2 separate regions of the Homo sapiens genome follow, and region 1 is linked to region 2. The links come from fine-mapping of genetic effects on gene expression. Tissue or cell type: whole blood. Region 2 holds a variant in brackets; the other region holds the start of a gene. All regions are shown on one strand. Distances are between the middles of the regions.

Region 1 (11,329 bases), 36 kb after region 2:
TGGGCAACATAGCAAGACCCTCTCTCTACCAAATAAAATAAAATAAAATAAAATAAAAAAATTAGCTGGACATGGTGGTGCATGCCTGTAGTCCTAGCTACTTGGGAGGCTGAGGCAGGATGATCACTTGAGTCCAGGAGTTTGAGGCTGCAGTAATCTATGATTGCACCCCTGCACTCCAGCCTGGGCGACAGAGCCAGACCCTGTCTCTAGAAAATAAATGAAAAAAACAAAACAAAGAAACCCCAAACCTAAGGTCCTTAAAAAGCTAGATTTATCAGAGACTACAGAAAGCACAATATGCTTCAGCAGTAGCATCTCTTAGGTTAAAAAATGTTTTCTTCCTCTGGAACAAATCATTTTAATTTACATTCTTCTGGGATGTAAAAGGCTGGAGAAAACATGTCATTTTTTGTCAGTCTAAAAAAAATTATGAAGCCATCAATTTCTCTTTGGATTTATATAAACTGAAAAAATGAACTCCATGTAAAGACTGAGGAAAGACTGAAGAATTATGACAAAGTATAGAATAAACCTATGTAAAAGAAAAAGTTATTTTCTTAGAAACGACTCATCTGTTTTTAATTCCAGTGGGAACAAAAATTTAAACTCTGCGGCACGAAGAGAAATAAGAATAATTTTGACAGTGAGTTTTCCTTTGGTAATGTTTTTTTAAACTGTTACAAGATGGCTTAAAATGGCCAAAATTAGAGTCGCCTCTTCATGATCACTTCTAGTTTGCTAATTTACAGAGGTTAACCAGGTCATCCTTAGGAATTAAAGGAGGGGTCAAGGATCTGAATACCACTTGTAACTAAAAATATGCAGCCACCACAACATTTTATAGGGCACCTGCCTTATTTCTAAATAGAAAAGTTGTTTCATGAAGTTTACTGTGTTCCTCTTGTTTATTCTTCACTTTCCTTTGTTCTTGCTTCCCACATTATGTTTCAATCACTGTCATTTGTAAGACTTTTTATGTAATCTTGCAGGGTATCTTTGAGATGTGACTTTCTTTTAAAACCATGCTTTAAATTATCTCTCCTAAATATTTGGTCAAACCTGTGCTTGAATGTAGAAGAGACGAAAACCTTAACAATTTACTCTTTTCTATGTGTGAGCATGGATATAGTGCACCATTCAAATAAACCCGGCCTTACATAGGTTTCTAAGTTTGCTCTCCCTCCACTCTCAATAAAGCCCTAAACCACCCATGTTTCATTCCTGAAATACACCAGGGACTTTAAAACACCGCTGCCTTCTGTTCATGATGTCCTTTCAGCCTGAGGTCTTCTTTCTCAAGGTCAGGTTTGGAAGTTCAGCTTTAATATCCCCTCCTTTGTGACACCATCACTAATCCCCCCAGTTATTAGAAAAGAGAACTTGAAAGGCAAGATTCAAATCTTATTTGTCTCTGTGTCCTTGGTACCTGGCATATACTCTGACCTGATATTCAGATGAACCAAATAAACTGATCCTTCCTCTTGATACCCTCAAACTTCAGCTTGCAATCACTCACCTTCTGCTTGGATACGATTTTTGAAATGGATGGTGGTACTGGCAAACTTTATGAGCAAAACTGAAAATCTTATAGAAAAAGAGTGGGGAAAATTTACAAATAATGCTTACATATTTACACATACATACAGAATAAATAAAACTTCTAGAAAATATCTTTCTTTCCTGCTTTTATTGGCATCAAAACATTTCTCCAGAAGGTCACGCTTTCCCAAAGTCACCTTCTTCTGAGATGTTTGTAATTTAGTAAACTGCCAAGCATATTGTAATGACTCAATACAATTATAGGTAATAGTATAAGAAAGCAGTATAGCATAATGCTTTCCCCATGCTTTGGAATTTTGACAGATATGAGTTCAAGATCTGGCTTTACTACTTATTAGCTGAGGAGCCTTGGGCAAATCGTTTAACTTTTCTGAGCTTTAGGTTCTGCACCTTCAAAAGTGGGAGGAGTTAAAAATGTGCCTATCACAGGATTTTGGTTAGGACTATATGAAATAAATGTAAAATTGCCTGGCATATGACAGTCCATAAGTGTGTTAGCTGTCATCCTTCAACTTTTTAGAAATATTGCTAGGGTGATATGGTGTGCTCAAGCTGACTCACCCCTTTGATGTGCAGCTGGAAATACAGACCTGAATTTCCAACGCTGCCTTCTCTCCTGAGATCCAGAGCTCTACGTCTAAATGCTTCTTTGATACCTCTACTCATAAGCTCTGCTGGCACTTCATATTTAAAATGGCCAAAGCTGATTATTTTCCCCTCAAAACAAATCTACTGTTTGTTCCTATATTCCCAATCTCACTTAACAGTACCTAGTATGAAACACAAGCTAAAAATCTGGGAGTCATCTTAAGAATCTTTCCTTTTCCTCACATTCTATATTTTGCCAAGATTCCTGTTAACTCTACCTCTATAACTATATCTAATATCTGTTTCGGACCCTACTCCATCAGGCAGCCATTTTCTCTTGCCTAGATTACGAGACTGTTTATAATCAATTCTTCCCTTTCTGACCCATCTGTCACATGGCTCAACGTGAAGTCTGATCATGCTGCATCCATGAATAAGGCCTCGAAGTTAAAAACGAGTTGATGTCCTGGACTCAATCATATTATACATATTTTTCAAATTCCTAAATGATAATGGTATAGCTTTTTCGTTTTTATACTTGTTTCTCCTAAAAGCCTATGAAATCCTTAAGGCAAGAGATATCTTCCTATGATGTTCTGGCACATAACAAAAATGTAAGATTAAATGAAGGACTCTACCACAGTTTAGCAAGCACCATTTATTTAATCAACGTTATTCAGCTCCTTTCCAACACTTTACCACTTCTAATACACTTCTTGGCAACTTTATGTGCTGCAGATCTAGGCCATATGTGCAGAATGAAATCTCTCTAGCACTGTCTTTTCTACATGTATGCCAAAATACCGACATTGCTACTGAAACTCCCCACAAAACATTTGAAATGAACATGAAAATAAATTTGTTTCCTCTGCCTGAGGCATCAGTCTCATAAAACTTGCCCACCAAAGCCTTGCATTTAGAATGCTGTTTTATTAATAAGAACATCACTGGTGAGAAAGTGTGACTGATAAAGACCTCTGATACCTAATAACTGTGATCATTGGGGAATGTCTGCCATATCCCTTCCACTTCAAACATTAATGACTGATACTAACCATCATCTAAAAAAAAAAATGGGCCAAACTCCTTGTGATGCAAGGAGCAAAAATGAAGCATGGAATTAAAATTAGTTTTCAGACTAAATGATCAACATTGTGCTTTGCTTTTGAAGCTCACAGTAATCAGTGAAACTAAAATATATATATATATATTTTAAAAATCACAGGTGTGTATAATTGCCTGAGGCCTCTTCCTAAATTCAACACAGATATTCAACTTCAACTGCTAAAATGGAATAAAAAGGTAGCATTTCCGGCATACAATGTATATTTAAAAATTAAAATTAGTGATAATGTTGAGTTACAATGACCTATTGAAGTCACAATTATTTCAGTTTATTTTTGAGTTTTCCGACCTGAAGGACAAAAGTCCCACACCAAAAAAAGGTAGAATATGAAAAAAAAGTCATTACGGTGTCATTAACCTGAAAAAACGTGATTTTAACTATACTTTGCCACACTCAACGTTACAAATAAAAGAATCTTACCATGCCATTATGCCTTGATTAACTGCGCTCCGGAATCAATCATGGCCTATGGTGTACGATTATAAAACAGAAAAAACAAAGTTCCATCTCATTTCTTTGTACACACATCATTACACAAAGGTGGAGAAACCCTGTGCTAATGTTTGAAGACTATTCTTTTTTTTTTCCAAGAGAAAAAGTTAACACTAGGACTTTATATATTAAGTAATTAAGTAAAAATAACGCTGTCTAAATTATTTTGAAATGCTGCCTCTCTTCCAAGTTCCAAACTATCTCAATTCACTTAGAAAAACGTTTAATCAAAAAACAATTCTAGGCTTCTGATATCCTAATGTAGAAAAAATGCAGATACTCAACACTTAAGATTTTGTTAGCGCACCAAATCATTCCATCTTTTACTTTCAATATTCCTTAAATAATAAAAAGACGGGAGAGATAATTCAGTTGCAAAGACTGGAGGAAACTTGCAGAACTTCTAGTGGAAGTTTATGCCATAAACTTAATAGCCCAGCCAGAACAATCACATTCTACTGCAAGCCAAATGGAGAAAAGAGTACCTTGGAGTGCCCCTATTTAATAAACACGGAACGAGGAAACAGTTAACTGTAAATACAGTCTAGAGGTATCCAGGTGACTGACAGTTCTCCAGAGACCCCGAGAACAGCGTAAAAGACCCCTTGAGGTCACCTCACCCCTGCGAGTCCACGGATTGGGACCTGAGGGAGTTCTCGCCAGCCCGAGGGCGAAAAACGGGCGAGGAGGAACAGATGCTCCTCCCTGGAAACCGCCCGGCCGGTTTCCGCTCTTTCAAAAAAGGGAATCACCCGTTTCTTCCATCCCGACCTCATCCATTCCTCGAACGCTCCTTCTGGATGAGGAAGATGGGCAGTGTCAAGGTTTTCTGGAGGAGAGGAGATCTGGGTCCCAAACACAGGAAAGGCCCCGAAGGCACGCGTACCCCAAGGCCGGTATGTCACCCGGAAGGGTGACGGCAGCCTGCGTGGCGTCTGAGCTAGACGGAGCATCTCCCCCTCCCCTGGTCCGTCGCCATCACCTCCTCTTCCTCCTCCTCCTCGCCCACTCCTGCACTTTCCACCGCGGCGGTCGCCTCCCCGGAAAGCACTCTCAACTCCGGCGCCCGCAGGCCACTTCCGCCTATGTGTCCCTGCGCGCGTGCGCAGACGCGTGGCCCCGCCTCCCGACAGGCCTGTGTGGCCGGTGGCGGGCGGGCCGTTACCTCCCGCGCATGCTCTATGGGGTAGAGACGCTAGGCCGGCACTGCCTAGGTGGGCCGGGCGGTGCGAGGGTCGCCTTTCAGCCTTTACCTCTACCCACTGAAATGGAGTAGGTCGGTGAGCGCCGATCTGCTGGAGAATCTCATTATCCCATCGGCGCTCTGCCTGCTCCTGGCCTCCAAGCCTCTGAAGCCCCTCGGGTTTCAGCTGCCGGCTACCCTCGAGCCCGTGGTGCCCACGAGAGAGGCGACTTTACGTCAGCGGCCCTGGGCTGAGATTTGAGAACGCGACCAAGTGGAGAATGTTGGAGCCAGATTTTAAAATCCTTGTCTTCCTTCTGCGTGCTACTTGATCTAAATGAGATACGGCAAAGTCACAGAACCTGTTTTTATGTTTTTGCCTGATTCATACGGGCTTCTCCGGTGAAGATGGGCCTGAAGTAACGCTTGGGTTGCTTCTGACGTTATAACTCATCCTGTAGCTGCAGCAACCGTGGTCCTTGCAACCTCATAAAAATGTTGCCAGCATTGTTTCGATAGTGCTGCTTAATTCTTGGAAGGTAAATCTCAAAGCTTGAGGACCAGCCATCAAAACTTTTGTAAAAGGTTTTCCCCGCGTTTAGGGCCTCATCCATCACCACTGAGATGTAATAACGTAAAAACCAAGACGGTTTGGGGATGAGCTGTTTTCAGAGAATAATTAAGGAAAATATTACTGTAACGAAGATGGACAATTTTTGAAAGCATGCCTTGAATACCAGAAAGGGATGAATTGGATTAATATGTATGTTAGAATCCAGTCAGTTATGGACAACTTTTAAAATTTTACAGGCACTCTTCAGAAAGGGTAGCATTTGTGTCTTGTATTGGGATCGAGGGTTTGTAAGAAAGCAAGGCACCTACTTTGGTGGTGAGAAAAAAAGGTCTGGGTAGACATTTTCGTTTAATACTTGCCAACGTTGTTAGGCTGGTGTTAGCAACACTTAGGAATGTTGGAATTAAGGCTTAGAGAACTTAAATTTCCTAAAGAGATAGTAAATGACAAAACCTTTCAGTGATGCCATATCGTCACTGTATAATGTGAATTTAGTACTACTGTTAGCCATTTATATGGTGGTTATTTATCAAGTATTTATTAAATGGGCATATGTATAGCTCATATCGTAAACTATGCGTATGAGCTCCCTGTCCTGAAGAAATTAGGGGTTTCCATGAGAAAGTAAATGGCAGTATAAAACAACTTAAGGTACAAGAGGTGTTACAAGGTACCATCTGCTCATGCCTGGACAATTGCAGTAGCCGTGAGCATAGCTTTCTGCATTCCCTTTATTTCTCTACATAGTTGCATTCAGCAGCTGGAGTGATCCCATTAGAACCTGAATATGCCACTCCTCTGTGCAGAACCTTTTAGCGGTTTACCATTTTACTCAGATTAAAGTTCAAAATTCTTACCCTGACTTTTAAGACTGAACTTATTCTTGATGGATCACATCCAAGCTACACTTCAGAGCTTTTCTAATTGCCCCCAAGCACAGCAAGCATCAGTGCTTTGTAGCTGTTGTTCCTTCTGCATGGAACACTGCCCTCTCAGATGTCCACAGAGCTTGCTTCCTCATTTTTTTCCAGTCACTGCTCAAATGTCACCTGGCTCTTCTCTGACTACCATGTCAGTGAAATATTTTTACATGTCAAATGTGAAATGTAGGAGAGACTATCTGGAGTAGTACTTATTATAGAGTAGGTGTTTAATAAATATCGACTCTCTTACAATACTTCCCATTTACTCCTGTGATAACCACGTGGTAAACAAAATTAAAGACTTGCAGCTATGAATTGTTTTTTATTGACTGATTGACTGATTGAGGCAGAGGCTCACTCTGTCGCTCAGGCTGGAGTGCAGTGGCACATCTCAGCTCACTGCAACCTCTGCCTCCTGGGTTCAAGCCATTCTCCTGTCTCAGCCTCCCGAGTAGCTGGGATTATAGGCGCCTGTCACCATGCCCGGCTAATTTTTGTATTTTTAGTAGAGATGGGGTTTCACCTTATTGACCAGGCTGGTCTCGAACTCCTGACCCCAAGTGATCCACCCACCTCAGCCTCCCAAAGTGCTAGGATTATAAGCGTGAGCCACTGCGCCTGGTCCTATGAATTGGTTTTAAATTTTTAAGAAATTAATAATTCTGTAGTATCAGAAACCTTTGGTGTCTTGATTCACATCTTCTGAGCATCACCTCTCATTTCTGACTTGGTTGTGGGGGGCAGTTTCATGCAATCTTACACATTCTTCTCCCTGACAGCTTCTCCTCTCCCACATTTACCAGGCCTCTTTGCTTTCTTCCCTGAGGTTCTTCGGACTTCACACATTCCAGCAGTAGCTCTCTCAGCTCCTGTCCTGCACAGCTTTGAAGTGCTGGTAAGTCAACACATCTGGGGCCCTTCAACCAAGGGGTGACAGTCACTGATGGATAAATGCTCTTGCTTCTTACACTTGAGCAAGATAGTTTTGTAGGCCATTCTGTGTGTTTTTCAAAAAGTCCCAGTGAAATTGGGTTCTGGTTTCTCACAACAGCAACTTCAATAACACATTCTTGTATTATGTCTATATTCTCCCTTCCATTCTCTCATTGTTTCTCACTAGGATCACATCCCAAATTACCTGTCCCCACATAAGTAGTTGTCTCAGGTTTTGAGGGAAACCAAGCTAAGAAATTTGATGTAAGAAGAAAGTCTAGAATGCAGCTCCTCAGAACTCTGGAAGTGGGTTACTTTGCAGTCAGATGACAACAAGGACTTTCTTAGTGATATTAAGGGGAGGACATGTGCATGGCCCAACAATTAAGGCTCTTTCTTACTAAAGCCGATATGACTACTGCCTCTTTGGATGTCCAGCCCATCAGCAGCAAAGATTGATGGTAAATTCCATAAGGAGAGCAATTACACAAAAGTCCTTCCTTCCTGGAGAGAGCCGTGGTTTGTACTTACGGAACTGACACTTCCCTTGATATGACTGGTCTTGTTCATGGTGCCTCTGCCAGTACCATTATATAACAGAGTTACAAACACATGATTGATTGACTTCCTTCCTTCCTTCCTTCCTTCCTTTCTTTCTTTCTTTTTTCTTTCTTTCTTTCTTTCTTTCTTTCTTTCTTTCTTTCTTTCTTTCTTTCCTTCTTTTTTTCTTTCTTTTTCTTTCTTCCTTCCTTCCTTTTTCTTTTTCTTTCTTTCTCTTTCTCTTCCTTCCTTCCTTTTTCTTTTTCTTTCTTTCTCTTCCTTCCTTTTTCTTTCTTTCTTTCTCTCTTTCCTTTCTCTCTCTCTTTTCCTTCTTTCTTTTCTTTTTTCTTCCTTCCTTTCTTTTTTCTTTCTTTCCCTTCCTTCCCTCCATCTCCTCCCTCCCTCCCTCCCTTCCTTCCTTCCTCTTTCTTTCTCTCTTTCCCTCCCTCCCTCCCTCCCTTCCTTCCTTCCTTTCTTCCTTCTTTGACACAGAGTCTCACTCTGTTGCCCAGGCTGGAATGCAGTGGCACAACCTCTGCCTCCCAGGTTCAAGCCATTCTCCTGCCTCAGCCTCCCCAGTAGCTGGGATTACAGGTGCCTGCCACTACACCTGGCTAATTTTTTTGTATTTTTGGTAGAGACACGGTTTCACCATGTTGGCCAGGCTGGTTGTGAACTCCTGACCTCAAGTGATCTGCCCACCTCAGCCTCCTAAAGTGGTGCAATTACAAGCGTGAGCCACCACACCCAGCCCAAACACATGATTTTCTGATGTATTGCCTCCAACTAAAGGACACACTTTATGGTAAAAGAGGTGTGACAATGACACACGACCATGGAATTCCACTGGTCCTACCATATATTGTATCAACTGGAGGAAATTGGCCTGATAGAACACTGACATTGTTTTGTGAACATCAGCAAGTATCCTTTTCAGGAACAGTGCTCAGATAGGGTTGAGATGCCGTCACTCCTGACACACACACACACACACACACACACACACACACACACACACACCTGGCCCTTGGGAAGTTTGGTGGCATTAACACCCCCAGGCAATGATCCACCAATGGGGAATGGGCACCTATGGATAAATGCCTTCCATTTCCTAGGAGCAATTTTTGGGAGGTGTTTTTATGTATTTTAGGATGTCCTAGATAATCAAGTCATGTGACTTGGGGGAGCGAGAAAGAGAAACCAGCAGTGGAGACTTAGAAGAAGCAGCTGTTGACATAGGATGGGTCCAGGAATGTACAGTCTTCTAAAAGCCAGGTGAAGACAATGTTTAAAGGAGGAAGGAGTGATCAACAATGTCAGTTCGTGTCAATTGGTGTTACTTAGTCATGTGTCTGTGAAGAATCATCTTGCATAGTTAAGTCTCAGGTTCTAGTGTCAGATTAAATTTAAATCCTTGCACCACCCCTTGCTCTTTGAGTGTCTTTGTGCAAATTGCTTAAATTCTCTAAGTCTCAATCTCCCCATCTGTGAAATGGGAATGACAGTAGTACCTATGTGGTAAATTGTAGTGATGAGTAAGTGAAAGATGTTTAAAGATGGTTAAATGGTTAGCACAACACCTATTACCTGACAAACACTTAGTAAAAGTTAGCTATTAATATTCTTATTAATATAGCCTACTATCATTAGAATAATCCATTTATATATAGTCATCAGTTGTCACTTTTCTAGCTCTTCCATAAGGAATAGGTTATATAGCATTTCCAAACTAGGAAGTTCATTGATAGATATATGGTTCCAGATGCACTGAGCAGAAAAACTAGTTAATTTGATTTTCATTAAATATCCATTTAATAAATACTTATTGAGCACTTACTCTGCATGCTACTGGGTATTGTGGATATGTGGATGACAAGACAGACATGGATCCCTGCCCTCACAAAGCTCACAGCCTTGTGTGGTGGAGATAATTAATTACACAAGTAATTATAGTGTGATTTGTGTTGATAAGGGTATTAACTACAGGATGCAATGGGAGCTATAGGCTATGCTAATGAGGCTGTGGTTATAGATTCAGTTCCCCTGTAGGTTGCTTGACTTCCAGGGCTATCAGTTTTTCTCTGCTGTCTCCTAAATGGATAGAGGTTCACAGAACTGGGCCACCTGGACACCAGCCATGACTCCTCTTCTTTCCCAGTACTGATAATTGGCATGGGGCAAAATTCTTCATAAAGAGGTAGCATGTGTAATGAGATGGAGAAATATTTTGCTCGTTTAACACCTGGCTTTTGAATCCCTTTTTGGTCAAAGTTTCTGTGTTTTGTTTTCTTTTTGTAAGAAGTAATTCGATTAGCCTCTTAGAAGATTATTCTTAAACTGCCTTCCATGGAGGGTTAGTCTTATTAACATGAAGTTCTTTTTATTTCCAGAACAGTGCTGTCCAATAGGAATATAATATAAGCCATGGAAGCTACTTTAAATTTTCTGCTAGTTACATTAAAAAGGTGAAATGAGGCCGGGTGTGGTGGCTCATGCCTCTAATCCCAGCACTTTGGGAGGCCAAGGCAGGCGAATCACTTGAGGTCAGGAGTTCAAGACCAGCCTGGCCAACATGGTGAAACCCCATCTCTACTAAAAATAAAAAAAAATTAACAGGGCGTGGTGGCGGGCACCTGTAATCCCAGCTGCTCAGGAGGCTGAGGCAGGAGAATGGCTTGAACCAGCGAGGCAGAGGTTCCAGTGAGCTGAGATCATGCCACTGCAGTCCAGCCTGGGCAACAGAGTGAGTCTCTGTCTCAAAAAAAAAAAAAAAAAAGGTGATATTAATTTTAATAATATATTTATTTAACTCAATATAACCAAAATATTATCATTTCAACATGCAATCAATATAAAAAGTTGTTAATGAAATACTTTAACATCTGTTTTTTTATACAAAATCTTGGAAATCCAGTGTGTATTTCACACTTCCAGCATATTTTGGTTTGGACCAGCCACATTTCAAGTGCTCAGAGTAGCACATATGACTACTATCTACCACTCAGGACAATGGAATTTTAGAGCACTTTAATTCTTGTTCACCACTTGGAAGGTGATGAAGTTTAAAGTGCTAGAGAAAATCCAGGCTGGGCGCAGTGGCTCACATTGCCTGTAATCCCAGTACTTTGGAAGGTCAAGGCAGGCAGATCTCTTGATTCCAGGAGTTCAAGACCAGTCTGGGTAACATGGCAAAACCCTGCCTCTAGAAAACAAACAAACAAACAAAACAAAAATAAAATCAGCTGAGTGTGGTGATGCATGCCCATAGTCCCAGCTACTCAGGAGGCTGAGGTGGGAGGATCCCTTGAGCTTGGGAGGCGGAGGTTGCAGTGATCCCAGATCACACCACTGCACTCCAGCCTGGGTGACAGAGTGAGACCTGTCTCAAAAAAAAAAAAAAGAAAAAA
Region 2 (11,329 bases):
GCATGAGCCACTGCATCCAGCCTAGAATCACTTTTAATATTCAATTTTTCTAGTTGTTTGCTGCTATATAAAGAAATACAATTCTTGCATATTGATCTTATATTGAGAGACTCTGCTAAATCCTCTTTTTAATTTTAATAGTGTATTTGTAGATTGCTTTAGATTTTGTGTGTACATAATTGTGTCATTTGTGAATATACTTTTTTTTCCTTGCAGTTGTTTTTTCTTCCTTGTTTTTTGGCTTTTTCTGTACAGGCTAGGACCTCCAGTACAATGTTGAATAAATGTACTAGTAACAGGAATACACACTTATTTCTGAAATCAAACCAAATACTTTCTATAACTTATCATTAAATATCATGCTTACAGTAGGTTTTTTTGTAGGTACTTACATATATGGAACTATTCAAATTTTGTGTTTTCCTATGTCAGTTTTGGTAGACTGTATTTTTGTAGAAATTAGTTGTTCTTATCTAAATTTTCAAATTTATTGGCATAAAATGCTTTAAGATATTCTTTTCTTCTTCCTAAATGTTCATAGAACATGCAGTAATATCCTTTTTTCATTTCAGGTATACTACACATTTTTATCTTCTTAATTTCATGATCAGACAACCCAGAAGTTTATTAATTTTAATTCTTAAAAAAAAAATCAACTTTTCTTTTTTTTTTTTTTTTTTGTTTGAGACAGAGTCTCGTTCTATCACCCAGGCTGGAGTGCAGTGGCACAATCACAGCTTATTTTAGTCTTGATCTCCTGGGCTCAAATGATGCTCCTGCCTCAGCATTCCATGGAGCTGGGACTACAGGCATACACCATTGTGCCCTGCTGATTTAAAAAAAAAAATTCTTATTTTTTCTAGACATGGGGTCTCATTATGCTGCCCAGGCTGGTCTCAAACTCCTGGTCTCAAGCAATCCTCCCACCTTGGCCTCTCAAAAGTATGAGGTCACAGGGGTGAGCCACTGGGCCTGGCCTTAATTTTTTTAATTGTATATTTTTATTTACTATTTAATTTCTGCTCTTATTACATACTTCTTTCTGCTTTCTTTGGGCTTCATTTGCTGAATATTTTCCTCACTTCTTAAAATAGATGCTTAAAACATAATAAATGTTTATAAAAAATAGGCTGTTCTTTTATGTGCATTTTTTGTTTGATCTTCAAAATCACCTTGTAAAGGTGTGCTAATTCCATTTTTCTGGATGAAGAAAATGAGAAGGTAACTAATTTGCTCCAGGTTAATTATGAAGCTGGAATTCAAATTAGGGCTGTTTGTACAGAAAGTCTATATTCTTTTTAAATATCTTGAATTCACATATGATTAGTATAAAATACATTTTTATCTTTTTCAAAAATTCTATTTTGTAATTAAAGAAAAAATTAGAATATGGTAAATATTTGTTTGCATTATAAAGAATCTAGGGTCAGTAAAGAAATCTAATTGTTATAAATCCATCTTTATGCTGATCATGTTTAAAAATTTTTTCATGTATCTCAAAAACGGCACTGACAACTTCCTCCCTTTTGACCTGTTTCTCCTTCTTTTGGCTCCTTGAGATCACGCTTTTCTCCTTCTCTGACTTCTCATTTTCAGCCCCTGTGCAGGTCCCTCTTGCTCTGTTCACCACTAAACATCAGTGTTCCTCAGGCTTTGTAAACACTCTCTTCACTTAAAAAAACAACATTGACAATCTTACTCATGCTCATTATTTTAACTCCCGAATCCAGATTCCCAGGCCTCTCAAACTACATATTATCATTGCTTTCTGAAATTGTTCATCTGGAGGTTCCAAAGTAAGACTTTAAACTCAGTCATGTCCAAACTATGCTTCAACTTGCTCTCCCCAACAGCAAATACACTCTTTCTCCTGAATTGTGTATCTCAGCAAGTAACATTCATCCAGTTTTCCAAGTCAGAACTGCAAAAGTCATTCTAAGATGCTTCCTCTCCCTCATCCCCTCCCTATCAATTACCCTCTAGATATCCCTATTATTGGTTCCATCCTCACCAGCTCCAATGCCTGAGTGTGTATTTAGATCCTCACGATGTCTTACCTGGACTTGCTTAAATGCTACCTCTTAGAAAAAGTCTTTCAGAATAGTCCTATTACACTTCATATACATTCACATTATAGAAATTAACGCACCATAACTCTATGCCTGCTTCTCACTAAACTTTGAGATAATTAAGTGAAGGAGTTGTGAGGCAGATATATAATCTATCTCATAAACATAGATATGTATTTACATATCTCTGAAGAGACTTGCAAATTGCTCAATACATATTTGGTCAATGGCTGTCACAGGAAAAAAAATGGAAAGGAAAGCTTATGATTTTCTCAGTGGTTGCTACAATAGTGGATAATTCATACTTTTCAAAATTAAGTGGAGAGGTCAAGTGGGTCCATGGAGTGTTACTATTAACCCTTCTGAAAGAGTTAGTTTAGATGGAACTATTGAGTGGACTTGTGTTCACTCACATAGAAATAGAGCTGGACCCTTTATGATAGTGCTCTGCCATCCAGGAAATGTCTGTTCATAAGGTCATAATAAAGCCTTCTGCTATTATAGCCACATCATTTGAACAGTCTTGTCTATTCATAAGCAAAGTTGTATGCTTAGAAAGGCTTAGGATCATGGAATTTGAATTTTGAATATTATAATTTCAAATTACATATCACTTATTAACAAAACTATCATAAAGAAGAAAACTCAATTCTATCAAGAAGGTATTTTTAATCACCCCATTTTCAGTGTGGTGAGTGAAGCACAGTAAAATCAAGCAATTTATGCTAACTGTTATCATATTACTGACAGTAATTCAGAAGTATTTCTTCCTAATTCTAGAGTCTCCTCTTTCTTATTGTGGTGACATTTCCAGCTAACACAGGAGAGGCACATAAAATCCTTAAGTACAACTTCTGATCTGGCACTTAGATCCCATATTTTAAAAATTTCCAGTGTTAATTATTTTTAATCCCTGCTCCAGCTTTAAGTTTATAGGTGTTCCTCGAATTATGACAGGTTACATCCTTATAAACCCATCATAAGTTGAAAATATCCTAATTTGAAAATGCACTTACTGCAACTGACCTACGGAACATCATAGCTTAGCCCAGCCTGCCATAAACGTGCTTAGATACTTGCATTAGTCTACAGTTGGGCAAAGTCATATAGCACAAAGTCTATTTTATAATAAGGTGTTAAATAGTCAGTGTAATTTATTGAATACTGTACTGAAAGTGAAAATAGAATGGTTGTATGGGTACTCGAAGTGCAGTTTCTACAGAATGTATGTTGCTTTCACACATTCTTGATCATTAAGCCAAGAAATCAAAAGTTGAACCACAGTGAATTGGGGACCATCTGTAGTCCCAACTGGATCTCTTGCTAAGAGAGACAAAATGACCTAGGAGTTCACAGCTAAGCAAGCCAGATTCCCTTTGCTTCTTCTCTGACTTTGACGCCTACACTCTATTTTTTTTCCCCAAGATTAAGCTTCTGTCTTGCCTTGTACTTCCAGTGATGTCCTCTCTGTCTTGACTACATTTGCCTTGGCTGCTTTACAAAGTATCTCACTTTAATTCAACGTAAAATCCTGACTGGTCCTTGGATTCTATCCCTTACTCCCAGTTGCCCCGTTTCAACACCTCTCTTTATGGTTGAGTCCCATTACCTGCTGGTAGATGACTTGAAGTGTCTACCTATATAGGCCATCTCACTCAAGCACAGGTCGATTTGGCTGACTGGGGATGTCAGGCAGGAAATCCCTTCTTCTTTCACCTCTGTGCATTCTCTTAAAGCCTGGTTCAAGATGCTAATCTTCTTAGGTGGGTTAGTAAGTATGACAGCAGGAGTGTCCACAAAAGTCCTTCCTTGGAAAAAGTCTTGCTCCCTTTACATGGTCCTGAGAAGGAAGGCAGTGTCAGGATTTTGAGAGGACACAAACAGCTGGAGAGGATGCCAGTCCTAACCTGGTGCTGTTGTGGCTGGAAAGAGCAGGAGTTGAGGAGTGGTGGGTTATCAGCTAGGCATCAGAGTCAAAGAAACCGATTTAGGTGCATTATGCCATTTACTATGTGTGAACCTTGGGTACATCACTTGTCTTCTTGAGGTCTGTTTCCATGTCTTCAAAATACAAACTACTGCTTCCCTGCCTGTTTCAAATCACTTTGTACAAATGATATGCATTAGACAATAGCAAAATTAGGAAATTTTACAAAGTATACTAATTGGTACCATCTCAAATAATCAAAGCTTTATGGTGAAGTTTTCCTATCACAAACAATTATGCCTATGTATTAAAAACAATCTTACCTAATTAGCCATAATATGAGACATATTTTAGGACTGAATTCTGTTTTATATTTCTGTTAGTCTTCTCCTAGAAGATTTGAAATCTATATTTAAGTTAGTAAAATATTTCAAAATTACATTTAAATTAGTAATTAGATTTGTAATAAAACATTACAAATCTTACTTCCAAAATTTGAATTTTACCAATTAAAACTGGTAAATGAACCAATATTTCTGAAATAGATTGCATCAAGATAGCGGCCAGCAAGTTTTCATTTGTATTAGAAAGGCAAATCTGAGAATCATTAGTAGTATAAATCACTAAGACAAAGAGTTGGGAGAAATTCTCTTTTAATGAGTTTTGGCTCCTGTCAAGATGGTGAGCTAGGATAGGCTGCTGGTTTCTTCCAAAAACAATCCTAGAGGAACTAGGAGATGGGGGAGGGTGGCGTGGTAGGGAGAAAGGATAGGAGAGAGGGTGAGAGACAGTGAGAGAGAGAGAGAGAGAGAGGAAGACAGACATACTGATTCAGACAGACAGATGTGAATTCTAGGAAAAAACAAAACAATACCAAAAGTGAGATGTTCTGGGGAGACTGAGGCTGTTTTAATCTTGGAGTTATAGACTAGAAACACAGAAGGCAGCAAGGTGCAGAAGGCAGTGAGAAGGCTTGGAGAGAAACTGCCAATGGCTATGCTAAAGTGTGTAATTACTGTTAAAAAAAAAAAAGACAACTGAAAAATATCTACCATTGAAAACAGAATGATTAGAAGAGAGTCCAAGAATTTAAAATAACCATGATAAAAAATAACACAATTAGGAACAATACTGGTAGCATAAAGCAAAACCAATAAATCGTTTTAAAAATCCAGGTAGAAATATTAGGTCTGAATACATAAGGGTTGAAATATAAAAAACACGACCATGACAAAGGAGATAAACAGCAGGTTGAACAGATGAACAAATTAGTACACTGAAAGCCCAGACTGAGAAACTCTCTCAGAAGCAGCAAGAAACAGCAGAGATGGAAACCATAAGAGAATAGCTTAGGGATATGTAGATGAAAGTAGAACTGCCAACATGTATAGGAGTCCCAGAGGTGGAGGAGAAAAAATAATCAAACTATTAGATATTCCTAGAAACTGTGTTAACAGATAACCCCTTAGAATTATGAAAAAAAAAATCACTACCCACGCTTCAGTTTTATGAGAATGGCAAACTGCTAAGAAATAACTGAACAAATAAAGTGTATGTTAGTAAGATTAGCTTGCAGAATTTACCAAATAGCTAGG[A/G]CATTTAAAACAATAAATCTCTTAATTCAGTGTGGGACTATCAGCCTGTGAATCTACACTCTTACTGGTGCCCTAGCCATGGACCTAGTTAGGCCTAATCAATCACCTATGTAAACAGTGCAGCCGCACACCTGGTTCTATGCTTCTCCTGAATCCAGCATAACTCCAGTTGTTTAGAGATGGACATCTCTATGACTCAAACTGGCTATGGATGATTCAAACTAGCTATGGTTCATACACATCTTACAGTAAATTCCCCCAGCCTCACCCTGTTAGATCAAACCTTCTTAAGAGCAGACATTTCAAATGTCTTCTTTGATTTAAAGAAAGGTGGCCAAGCATCCAAACAGTCCTGAGATTTTATGATTCTGTGGTGCTTAACACAGATATTGTAGACCAACATCATCAATTAAAATATAGTTAGAAACTAGAGAAAAAGATGATTACCTGTGTTTATGAAATGTCTCTGGTTTATATACAAAAATTATTCTAAACAATTACAATTGAGGTCTATCTATCATTGAATTTTGGAATGTATGAAAAAAATCAATTCCTAAGTGCCCCAACCAATTCCTAAGTGCTTATACACTGTTGAGTCAGAAATGAAACACAATAAACATTTTAATTGATCTGCTTTTTATTTCTGTCACTGTAACTGGTACTAGGAGAAAAATAATTGGGGAAGAGCCCTATAATGAGATCTAGAATAATCAGACTCCAAAGTCTTATTGCTATTATTTTCTATAGTGAAAAATTATCCACATTTCTTTACTTATCTATTTAAATCTTATCAATTGTGTAAAAACTGATTAAAATGGTCTAATTATGTTTTAGAAATGTGGGGGGTTATCATAGGATTAAGATATTTAATAAAACACATTTTTGTGATTAGACTCAGAAGAATCCCTTAAGTGTTAAGACCTACTTCCCTAAACCCCTGTAATTCACAGTTCATTCTGAAACAGCAGTAAATCATTGATGTGAACATTTTCTTCATAATGTCACTACAAAATAGCATAAAAACTATCTTAACTACATGCCATGAAATTAAAACAACAGACCATGACTGGAAGAGAATTACAGGTTTATCTTACTTTCATGAAGATTTTTAAAAAGGTAACATTTATAGAGAAAGTCATGAATATTAAATCTTTCAAACACCTACAATGATTAAAAAACTCTTTCTGCTTATGCCAGCAACTCTCCAACATAAGATTGCTGTTCAGTTTGCTAGGGCAGGCCACCGAGAATGTGAAGTTTGAAAAGCAAATGGAACAAACTTGGGTGAAAATTATTCTGATAATTTCAGATGTCCTGATATTGAAAACTTCTGAAAGTTTGTATGCTACACCCTAGACACTCCAGGTATGGTCCATGGACCAGCAACATTAGCATCACTTGGAAGTATGTTAGAACAAAATCTCATGCCCCACCCAACCCTATTGAATTCAAATCCTTTGTTTTTTCTTTTTAAAAAACTAGATCCTTAGGTGGTACATGTGCACACTGAGGTTTTAGAAGTACTACCACCATGGCGAAATATTCTGAAAACTTAGGGTTAATGTGATGTGTTTTTATATAACAATCATAGCAAATCTTCCATAGATTGGAAGTTTTTCAAGAGTACGGGTTATAGTTTATTCTTTTTGCATCCTCAGCATCTAGTATAATGCCTGGCTCATATTTGGCCCAGTGAAGATGAATGAATAAATGACATTATAGTAAAAATAGAGCAGTCATATCAGTGAGGCTACATTAGCTGTTTACAAATGTTAAGACAGCTGGTTCAATGGGCAAGTATAGGGACAGTCAATAGGGACAATAAAGCAGAATAAGTGAAAATGTAAAATATTTTTGCTCAAACACATAATACAGAAAACTTATCAAGTGTTTAATCAGGAAGAAAACACACAGCAAAGGTTTTGAGTGTCACAATGTATAACCTGATGATTTGATAACCATGTAATTAGTTTTAGAGTTGGGGCTGGCCATGCTGGAAAGACTAATGATGTGACCGTAGGCTTGGGACTTTGAGCCATGAGGTTTGGGACTTTGAGCCATGAGGTTTGGGACTTTGAGCCATGCAATACCAACCCAACCTCTGGGGAAGGAAGGACAGCTGAAGATAAAGTTCAGTCACATGGCCACTGATTTAATCAATCCTATGGGCTGTATAGTGAAACTCCAATAAAAACCATATACCAAGACTTGGGAGAGCTTCCCTGGCTTGAACACATGGATGTACCAGGAGGGTGATGCATCATAAGGACATGGAAACTAGTGTTTGCAACTATGTATATAAGAGTAAATGTGATTTTGTAATGCATACATATTTGCAGTGTGCTAAGCCACATTACTGGCCCATTACTGGTCAAGTTTTACTAAAATTTTAGGCTTACTGATCAAATAAGAATCTAGAATGTAAAGTGGGTTCAAAATCTAGAATATAAAGTAGGTTTAAGGTAAAAAACACTTGGGAAAACTAAAAGCATTTGATAACAGTTCAGACAATGCTAATAGTTCTTTAATGATAGCTAACAAGCATAATGCCTGCAGTACAATTCTGATCCTAACTACCCAGAGTTAGGTCAAATGTCACATGTATTACTCAGGGCTCTCAGAGGGACAGAACTAATAGGATATATATATATATATATATATATATATATATATATATATATATATATATAAAATATATATGTATATTATATATATGAGTATATTATATATATTTATGTATAATATATATTTATATATTATATATATATGAAAAGGGGAGTTTATTAAGTATTAACTTACATGATCACAAGGTCCCACAAAAGGCTGTCTGCAGGCTGAGGAGCAAAGAGAGACAGTCCAAGTTCCAAAAGTGAAGAACTTGGAGTCTGATGTTCCAGGGCAGGAGAGCATGGGAGAAAGATGTAGGCTGGGAGGCTAGGTCAGTCTCGCGTTTTTCTGGGAGGCTAGGGCAGTCCTGCACATTTTTCTCCCTGTTTTATATTTGCTGGCAGCTGATTAGATGGTACCCACTAGATTGAGGGTGGGTCTTCCTTCCCCAGCCCACTGACTCAAATGTTAATCTCCTTTGGCAGCACCTTCACAGACACACACAGGATCAATACTTTGCATCATTCAATCCAATCAAGTTGACACTCAGTATTAACCATCACAAGTCTACCCCTTGTCAACTTGAACCCATACACATCTCCTGAGATCATACATAATCTTCAAATAAAGACAATAATGTCATAATTATGCCTAACATAATACAACTATCCTTCATACAACTGGAAATGCACCAATCCCCAACCCAAATACTATTGCATAAAGTTAACAATACTTAAATGCTGATATGAAGTCAATAATCTTACATCACATGATAAAGGAAAAGGAAATAAAATGAAGATATTTTCTTAGTACAAGTGTATACATGCATAAACATGTTTTTAACAAAAGGAGGAGGAAATATTCATGACAGTTACAGTCCTCGTTTCTGTAGCTGGTCATGTGGTCGTAGCTGGTATTGGTGACTACCTTCTACTACCCATTCTGTATTCCTTTTGCCTTCAGCAAGCACCTCAGCAGATTGTGGCTTTTCTCCTGGTGAAGTCACCCAAATCTTCATTCCCGAGGGGTCTGGACCATTTGTAGTCCTGCCTGGCTTGGGCTGTTGTAGTTTCCCATTGACTTTAATCACAGGGGATGGTAATACTAAGAGGCACCGATCTCCTGTATTCCATGCATACTCTTCCTTACCTCTCTTATGGAGTAATAGACTGATTTCATCTTGATAGTCCGGGTCAATCACCCCAGCCAACACTGTAAGTCCCTTCTTAGCCTATTGACTTAAAGGTAGAAGGAGCCCAAAGTGTCCAGGTGGCAATCTTAACTTCCAGTTTAATGGATCGTTGTTGTGTCTCCTGGTGGCAGCATTCCTCCCTCTGGTACTAAGAACTTTAGGCCAGCAGAACGTAATGTCGCCGGAACAGGAAGCAAAAATTTTGCTAGTGGATCACTAGGGGTGATGGTGAGTGGTGCCACTTCCACTTCCATCCCTTGATTCCTGGACCCATGAATCCTGGCTATGGGAGAAACAGTACCATATATTGGATACTGATTCAGAGCATACACAGACTTCTGGAGAACTTTGCCCCAGACCTGCAAAGTATTGTCACCTAGTTAGTGTTGTAATTGTGACTTCAAAAGGTCATTCCACCTTCTATCAATCCATCTGCTTCAGGAAGATGGGCAACATGGTAAGACCAGTGAATTCCATGAGCATGAGCCCACTGCCACACTCCTTTAGCTGTAAAGTGAGTGCCTTGGTCAGAGGCAGTGATGGGTGGAATACCATGACAGTGGAAAGGCATTCCATGAGTCCACGGATGGTAGTCTTGGCAGAAGCATTACGTGAAGGATAGGCAAACCCATATCCAGAGTAAATGTCTATTCCAGTGAGGACAAACCTGTGCCCTTTCCATGATGGAAGGGGTCAATATAATCAACCTGCCACCAGGTAGCTGGCTGATCACTCTGAGAAATGGTGTCATATCTAGGGTTCAGTGTTGGTCTCTGCTGCTGGCAAATTTGGGACTCAGCAGTGGCCATAGAAAGGTCAGCCTTGGTGAGTGGAAGTCCATGTTGCTGAGCCCCTGAGTAACCTCCATCCCTGTCACCGTGGCCACTTTGTTCATGATGACAGGGGAGGCTGGGGAAAGAGGCTGAGTGGTGTCCACAGAACGGGTCATCCTATCCACTTGATTATTAAATTCCTCCTCCACTGAGGTCACCTGTTGGTGAGAACTCACATAGGATACAAATATCTTCACAGTTTTTGACCATTCAGAGAAGTCCCTCCACATACTTCTTCCCCAAATTTCTTTGTCACCAATTTTCCAATCATGCTTCTTCCAAGTCCCTGACCATCCAGCCAAACGGTTGGCTACAGCCCATGAATCAGTATATAATCCTACATCTGGCCATTTTTCCTTCCATGCAAAGTGCACAACCAGGTGCATTGCTAGAAGTTCTGCCCACTGGGAAGATTTTTCCTTCACCACTGTCCTTCAGGGACGTCCTAGAAAGGGGCTGTAGTGCTGCCGCTGTTCACTTTTGGGTGGTGCCTGCATATTCTGCAGAACCATCTGTGAACCAGACCCTAGTCTTTTCTTCCTCTGTCAACTGATCATAGGAAACTCCCCATGAGGCCATCGATGCAGGCTGGAGGAGGGAAGGCAGGGTGGCAGGAGTGGAGACCATGGGCATTTGAGCCACTTCCTCGTGCCTTCAGGACCTGCTCAAATCCAATCACATATATACCACTTCAATTTGATGATGGAATACTGCTGTACACGACCTGCTCTATGGCTAGATGGGTCAGAAAGCACCCAGTTCTTGATAGGCAGTTCAGGTCGCATGGTGACTTGATGACTCATAGTCAAACATTCAGTTTCCACCAAAGCCCTGTAACAGGCCAAGAGCTGTCTCTCAAAAGGAGAGTAGTCATCTGCAGAAGATGGCAGGGCCTTGTTCCTAGAGGCCTCTGCTGTGATTCACCCATGGGAGCCTGCCAAAGGCTCCAAACAGCATCCCTGTCTGCCACTGACATCTCAAGCACCATTGGATCTGCTGGGTCATGTGGCCCAAGTGGCACAGTAGCTCGCACAGCAGCTTGGACCTGTTGCAGAGCCTTCTCCTGTTCTAGACCCCACTAAAAACTGGCAGCCTTTTGGGTCACT

The links.
Region 1: SLC35B3 starts here. The variant in region 2 is fine-mapped to the expression of SLC35B3 in whole blood (TOPMed, PIP above 0.99).

Annotation. Positions count from the first base shown.
Region 1 is chr6:8,430,688-8,442,016 of GRCh38, forward strand. SLC35B3 (solute carrier family 35 member B3) reads right to left here and starts at 4,858. Exons shown (of 10, transcript NM_001370479.2): 1 at 4,656-4,858. It overlaps LOC100506207 (a long non-coding RNA gene), which reads left to right and starts at 4,936. Exons shown (of 5, transcript NR_038980.1): 1 at 4,936-5,491; 2 at 7,253-7,344. RefSeq lists enhancers at 1,866-2,035, 4,486-4,625, 4,598-5,139, 4,636-4,695, 4,896-5,065 and 2 more.
Region 2 is chr6:8,395,077-8,406,405 of GRCh38, forward strand. No RefSeq gene overlaps it. Among named protein-coding and RNA genes, the nearest start is that of SLC35B3, 35 kb to the right of the region's middle. RefSeq lists enhancers at 2,390-2,559, 9,363-9,532, 10,053-10,222, 11,319-11,329 and a cis regulatory region at 9,448. The variant A/G (reference allele first, on the strand shown) is at 5,592.